2 linked regions of the Homo sapiens genome follow. The protein of the gene in region 1 purifies or fractionates together with the protein of each later gene. This does not show direct contact. Each region holds a gene or a part of one and is shown in the gene's direction. Other genes may lie near its edges.

Region 1 (3,754 bases):
ATTACTGAATAATAAAATTGTTACTATGCTAACAAAACATGTCATTAATTCAAAAGAAGATCAGGAAGAAAAGAGAACTTAGAAAATGGAGACAAACAGAAAGCACAAAATAAAATAGTACTCTATATCTAAACCCAACTATATTAGTTATTATATTAAATGTAATGAGCTGAATTCTCCAATTCAAATACAAAAATAGAAAAAAAATTCAGTTATATCATGCATACAAAGAACACATCCAAAATATGAGAATATGGAAAGGTTTTAAGTTTCTAAGAATGTAAAACGATGGGAAAATACATCATTCAAATGTGAACCAAAAAACTGTATTAAAGTAGTAATATTAATATTTGATCATAAAAACTTTAAGGTAGGCCAAGGCGGGCAGATCACGAGGTCAGGAGATCAAGACCAGCCTGGCCAACATGGTGAAACCCTGTCTCTATCAAAAATACAAAAAAATTAGCTAGGAATAGTGGCACACACCTGTAATCCCAGCTACTTGAGAGGCTGAGGCAGAAGAATCGCTTGAACCTGGGAGGTGGAGGTTGCAGTGAGTTGAGATCGCACCATTGCACTCCAACCTGGACGACAGAGCAAGACTGCATCTCAAAAAAAAAAAAAAAAAAACTTTAAGGTAAAAATAATTAATGTATATAAGGAGGGTAATTTAAAAATAAAAAATTGTTAAAGTTTTTGAAAATATAATAATTTAAAATTTATGTGCTCTTCATAACATGGCCTCAAAATGTATAAAGGAAAAATTGACAGAAAAAGAAATAATGGGTAAATTCACAATTATAATGAAAACTTTTAATACATCTTTTGAAATAATTGATACGTAAAATTTGGACTACACAATAAATCCATTTGATTTAATAGATTGATTGATTGAATGATCGGTCTATCTAAAATATTGCATCCAACAAATGTAGAATGCACATTCTTTTCAACACTCATGGAATATTTTCAAAAATTGACCATATAGTAGAATATAAAGGAAGCTTTAGCAAATATATAAGGAGAGAACTCAGTTAAGATGTGTGATCTGATCTTAGTGCAATTAATAAAAAATAATAACATAAGTATATATTATGTATAATAATATAAAAGTTCAAAAGACAATAATAATAAAAACAGAAAATTCCCATATGTTTGGATGTGGTAGTGGTTGAGAGGCATGCATAGGACACAGATGTAAAAAGGACACTGTCTTGGTTTGCTGTATGTATTCAGGGATTGTTTAAATTTATTTAAGAAGATATTCACATAGTACTCATGCAATAGAAAAAGCTACTTTGCTGTTGCAGAAAATTTTACTCATACTCCTTCCTTTTCTCTGCCAATGCTAAATAAATTCTTAACCCAAAAGGGTGATTTTTAAAAGACACATGTTCTTTTCAACATAGTTATAAGTTGGACGCAGATTTGGATAAGCTCTCAGTAGTTCATCTGCAGCTGTGTACAAACTTTATCCCGGGTTGTTCAGGCCCAACACAGCTACTCTGAGACCAGATAACTAAAAAAACTAAAAAGAAGCTATACTGCTTTAAGTGAAGAAAGCTCCAGCCCTCAGGTGGAGTCATTTCCGGGCCCTGTGATAAAGCTCAGCTGGGAGGCTCCTCAGTCATTACTACAGGGCAGGAAGGGCACGTTCTCATCAGCATGGTAAGTGACTACACGCCTATGCATTGTTGTAGGAAATTTTACTAATCATATTTGGCCCTTTTCCCACAGCAAACAATTCTTAATAAAATTGTAATGCAAGAGAAGACATTTGTAAAGAAACATTTGTTTCTTTCAATGTCCAAGTAGATGAGTTGGGAGCAGATGTGGACAGGCTGTAATCTATTCCTCTGTAATGTTGCTTCTTTCAAGGTAAAGCTCAGTTGATTTGCAGTAGCTCACTGCCATTAATTGAAGCACTGAAGCAAAAACCTTTCCTTCCTTTAGTTTTCACCTTTGTTTTAGGCCCAGAGTGCTGATTTTTCTGTAGATATTCATTGCTTCACTTTTCGTTAGGCTGTTAAGAGTTTCTGAGGACTTCAGACTTAGGTAACCGTGGCTAACCTCATAAATGCCTGGCAGGGTAAAGTGCGCAGACATCTTCTTTGCCCTCCCTTGAGTTTAGTTCTTTGGGCACCACAATGAATAGAATAACTTACAATAATTCTGTTTTGGGATGACCTTTTCAGATCCATTTGCCCTTTATTTTTTTCTGTGCCAGTTTTTCAGTATCTTTGAATTTTTAATTCTTCAATGGAAGCAACATTTCGAACTGCTTCTTGATCTTTGATTTCTCACCCCATTGGTCTCTCTGTCCAACATTTAAAAAATTTTAAATTGTTTTGCTTTTAAAAATTATGCCTTTCAACATGAGAGAGACTTGTGATAATAGCATGTTCTGTATCTTATCACTGTCAACATTCTGGGTGTGATTTTGTATTATGGTCTTGCAAGATGTTTCCACTGCGGGAAATGGGTAACGGATGCAAGGGATCTTCCTATGTTATTTCTCACAGCTGCATATCAATCTACAAAGACCTCAAAATTGAAAGTTTAACTGAGAGTTATGCTTTTCTAGTAATTCAAATAATCCTTATAGCAGCGTTTAATAATGTGCTATGACTTATCAGTGTTGACGTTCAGTGGACATTTTATAGTCTTCTACTTTATAGTGTGACTAATATTTTCATAGAGAATTTGGAAAAAAAGGGAGAGGCTAAGAGAAGAATAAGGCAAAGATAGTCTTCTACACCCTTGGACAGAGTTATGTTATAAGCTAAGCTCCTTCAAAGACGAAGGATGCTTGTTAGTCCAGGCTATTCGTGCTGATTTCAAAAAGAACAGCATCACTCTGCTTTCTGAGTCACTTGAACAGACCACGTGAAGAGGAACAATCTTTTTTTTTTTTAATGTTAGTGATTATTTTTACTGTGACTATTATGAACAAATACCACATGTACACCTGAATTTTACTCGTCACTGTAACACAGGACTGGGTGGTAGCCAGTGGAGAAGACAGAGAAATCTACATGTAAACTTTACAAAGTAAGAGGTTTTAATGATGTAGAAACAATGAACGTTCACCCTCTCCTTTTAAAATGTTAACTTAAATTTAAGGAGCCAAGTTTTGATCAGATTACAGCAGCTGATGTATTTGCAGCACTTTAAGTCCGACAGAAGGGGAGAGGAATAAGATTAAGGTTATCTGAAGCCTGATAAGGGGTATTCGAAGCCTGTTTATAACAGAATATGCTGTCTTGAGAGGTGGAATATTAGTTTGTCCTAAATGAAGTGCTTTCTAAATTAGAGAGACTGATAGTTGCACAGAAAATAAACAAGATGGAAGCCCTACTAAGGTAGTGAACTTGAATTGGTCATGAAGCAGAGGGCTGTTATGCCTTGTGAATCACAGAGACAAAGTACAAAGGTTTGATGCCATTGAGCATGAACAGAGTCCAAGTCAGATTGCAGGGGTGTGGCCGACCAGAGCCCTCTCCTTACTTTCCTCTGACTAGTGGTCTGTGTAGACCAGTGGTCCTCAACTTTTTGGCACCAGGAACCAGTTTTGTGGGACACAATTTTTCCATGGAGTCGGCAGTGGGGATGGTTTCTGGATGAAACTGTTCCACCTCAGATCGTCAGGCATTAGTTAGATTCTCATAAGGAGCACACAACCTAGATCCCTTGCATGCGCAGTTCACAATAGGGTTAGTGCCCCTATGAGAATCTAATGCTGCCGCTGATCCGA
Region 2 (3,654 bases), on another chromosome or scaffold:
AAGTGGGGGCCCTGTGCTTTGTAGTAACATTGACTGAGAAGTCTGTAAGTGGGGGAAGTAATTATAAACCAAGGGAGATCATTGTCCTGTTTACAAGCCACTTGTTAAGCCACAGACTTTAACATTTCATGTAGGGACCGGGAAACCAAGAGGAACATCAATTTAAAATAGCCAGGGCCAGATCTCAGAGCTAGAAAAGGTCAAAGAGGTATTTTATCTGAGCTCCCTTCCAATGCAGCATTCAGAGCTTGACTTCCTTGGCAGGTGGTTAGATGTGGGCCTTGAAGAGACAGCCCAGACTCCTAAACACAGGGTGATCAGCACTGTTAGTGACATGATCTCACTTCCAGATGGCTAGTTCCCATCTAGCATGATACCCAAATTCTCCTATGATATTGGACACGTTATTTTTATTTTAACTAGCAGAGTATGACTTCAGTGTTCCCTGCCAGATTCGTGCAATCATCCTGGTGTCCCATGTAATGCAGCAAAATGGTGTCAAGTTCATGAAAGCGTAATGAAATGGTAGCTGTAAAGCTAGCCTATATTGGAGTTGCCACCAGGTCCACAGTCTCTGACATGTTTAATATCTGAGCCCTTTGCAATCTTCCTCTGTGAGGAGATGCTGGAGAAGCTCAGGCCTCTTTCTCTTCGCTGGTAATTTCAGTTCTCTCTAGATGAGAATAGCTTAAAGTCTCTAGATTCCAATTGGTTAAAACTCAAATTTTAAGAACAATGCAAAAAGGGGAAACATACCTGAAAAAAATCACTTTGTCACTCTTAAAATTATTTTCTTTCCCTCCCAATGTCTGTTTTGTCACAGCAGAAAATAATTTACCGCAAAGAAGTAGAGGGAAGACCAGAAGGTAAAGTGAATGGTAATTCTTCTTAATCGACTCGGCTCGAGGAGCTTGTGGAATCCCTTTCCAGAAGCTTTACCATCACAGCTCTGTGACTGTCTCCCAGCAATACTGACTGCAGTCATGTGACCTGGCCCAGCCCAGGACTTCTCTCATTACAGCTGCCCCAGATTTGGGCCAATGTCCGTCTACTCTCCTGGTTTTACTGTAAATAAGTATATCCTGTGATGCTCTGTCTTTCCAGGCCATGTGGTATGAAAAGTCTTAACCTCAAAGGTTAAAAGACCCAGGTTCAACTCCTGGCTCTGCTATTTACAAGCATGGAGCAAGTTTTGGACACATAGTGAGTTCCTGGCACACAGTGAGCACCCAAGATATAATATTTTCCCTCTTTTCATCATTTAGTTAATTTCAAGCACTCCCAGATCAGATGTCCTGACCTGTCTGAAGATCAACAATGAGCCAGGAGGTGTGAGCTCAGGCTTCTGGCTTCGCCAGTCCTGACCAGTGGGGACCCATTCTTCTCTTGCTTTTCCCTCCTGTTCACAGCTCATCTTGCATTCCTTTCTCCAGCTTCTCAAGTCCAAATCTCATTTGGGGCTTGTAGCCTCTGATGGGAGCCCCTCTGTCTCTGGACCTTTTTGGGTGCACATATTCTCTCACAAGGCCCCCTACTCTTGCCAGTGTCCTTCGCATTCCTCTCGCCCCACTCCCATAGACCCCTCCACTGTCAGAGCTGTTCAGAAATACCCAGGGGAACAAGGGTGCTGCTGCCGGCTGCCAGTGAGGGCCAGCTCTGGGGCATCGCAACCTGTGGGCTGTTGCTATTACAGTAGGGCCTAAACCTCATGGAAAGACACAGCCATCCAAGCAGTCAACAAAGTGTTTAAAGTCTTAAAATGCTCTTGGAAAAAGAAAAGTTAGATTGTAATCACATGCAACTTATTAGGCCCTCAAGAGGTATGGATTCTGTTATGCCTCCGCTACATTTCCCACCCCTGCGACTCCAGTTCCCTTGTTCCAGCCTCAGAAGGAAGGGCCTAGGACACTTTACAGGGCTGGTGGGCACAGCTTGCAAAAATGGCTGTGGAGCCCACGCACGCTCCACGATCCTACTTGTTATAATACTTGGCCTCGGGCTACCTTTGCTTTGTGCTATTCTGCAGGAAGAGTTTTATCGCTTTGACAAAAGTGTTATTCTTTTATTTATAGTTTCCACAAAGTTAGTCAGACTCTGGGTAATAAATGATAACTGCTTGTGCATAGAAATCATGAGGAGCGTTTGCAGCCAGCTTCGGAAGGCTTTTGGATTCTATTTTTCTGGAACCTTCTCAGCATTCTTCCCTGGCAAATGCTCTGTGAGTGAATGGTGTCAGAGTGCTTTGTTCCCCTTAGGCAAGGAGCACCGTGGCACATTTGACAGTGTGGGGGCTCCTCAGCTCCTCTCTGAGTAGATGTTTGTATGTGGCAAGTGTAAAAGTTGAATAGCAAATGGTTAGAATCAGGAGGAATAACTAGGAAAGTAATGAATGGTGTTTCTGCGGACAATTTATACTCAAATATAGTTACTAAAATGAGACATGTCATGAGACTGGCTATTAGCAAATCAAAGTGTCTTTTCCTAATCTTGGAAAAGATTTATAATCCCCACTTAAAGATTTGCTGATGAACCAAGGGAGGAAAGGTTATCTAATGTGATGGATGACAGAAATGGGATCCCAAAAGATCTTGGCAATTCCAGAGATGGGTTCAAAGTAACAAGACGAAATTTAATAAAATAAGGTTTAAGCTCTAACAAGAGTTACAACAAATAGCTCCTCCATTACAAAATCAGAGACCTGGAAATCTCAGTTTACCTGGGCCAACAGTGTGACATGAGTGCTACTGTGGTCCCAGCCCCATCAATAGAAATACAGTGTCCAAAAAATAGGAGGTCACACTATTCTGGAAGGTGACCAGTATGAGGAACAATCTGGGAACCAGGTAACTTTAGAAATGACTAGAGCAACTGCAGATGTTGAGCTTGAACAGATGGCTGGTGGAGGGGCACTCCTTAGAACATTGCAGGAACAGGCTTCAGTTCACCCTCTAAAGGGCGATTGGGCCTTTTCTGCCAAATTCCACAGGGTGCACCTAGGACTAATGGTTAAAGTCAAAGCAGAGTGAATTTGGTTCCATGTTCAGAAGAATTTTACCATCCTCAGAACCAATTTAAAATAAATTGCATTGCTTTGTACATTAGTGCTCTTGTATTTTGGTCTTGTTAAAGCAGATCTTGGGGATCAGTTGCATCCAATGGGAAATCAAAGTGGGAATATAGAATCCCTGTTTCCTGCCAGCTCCACAAGGATGGTGAGGCAAGTTTAAATACAGACACACACACACACAAACACATAAACACACACACACACTTCCACACACACATATATAACTTCTCTTGAGTCAACACTATTAATATAAGTTTGCATTTGTAAAATGCTTGGTTTTCATTTCATAGATATTTTATTTTTGTGCCAGCAAAAGGGTAGAGAAAGACATTCTTATTCCTAGTTTAAAGATAGAAAAAAAAAACCCCAAGAACTGTTAGTGTCCACTTCTCATGACGCTCTCCCCAGTGAGACCAACACTCACAGATGTGTCACCATGTGGACATTGGTGGTGTTATCGACATGTGTGGTCTTGCTGGCCAAATAGTTGTGCATTTATATTAGACATGAACATTTATTATCCCCATAAAGAAAGGAAGTTGAAATAGCAGCTCTCTGAGATCACTCTGAACATGGGGAGACTTGCT

The links. The genes of interacting proteins can lie anywhere in the genome.
Region 2: the proteins of TUBAL3 (region 1) and KATNAL2 purify together in Homo sapiens (tandem affinity purification; one large-scale study listed by IntAct). This does not show direct contact.

The regions. Positions count from the first base shown.
Region 1 is NC_000010.11:5,402,704-5,406,457, reverse strand, and holds the start of TUBAL3 (tubulin alpha chain-like 3), read left to right. Parts: upstream 1-1,629; 5' UTR 1,630-1,665; coding exon 1,666-1,668; intron 1,669-3,754. UniProt on the Homo sapiens protein: Tubulin is the major constituent of microtubules, a cylinder consisting of laterally associated linear protofilaments composed of alpha- and beta-tubulin heterodimers.
Region 2 is NC_000018.10:47,053,573-47,057,226, forward strand, and holds part of KATNAL2 (katanin p60 ATPase-containing subunit A-like 2), read left to right. Parts: intron 1-823; coding exon 824-866; exon of another isoform or gene 867-878; intron 879-3,654.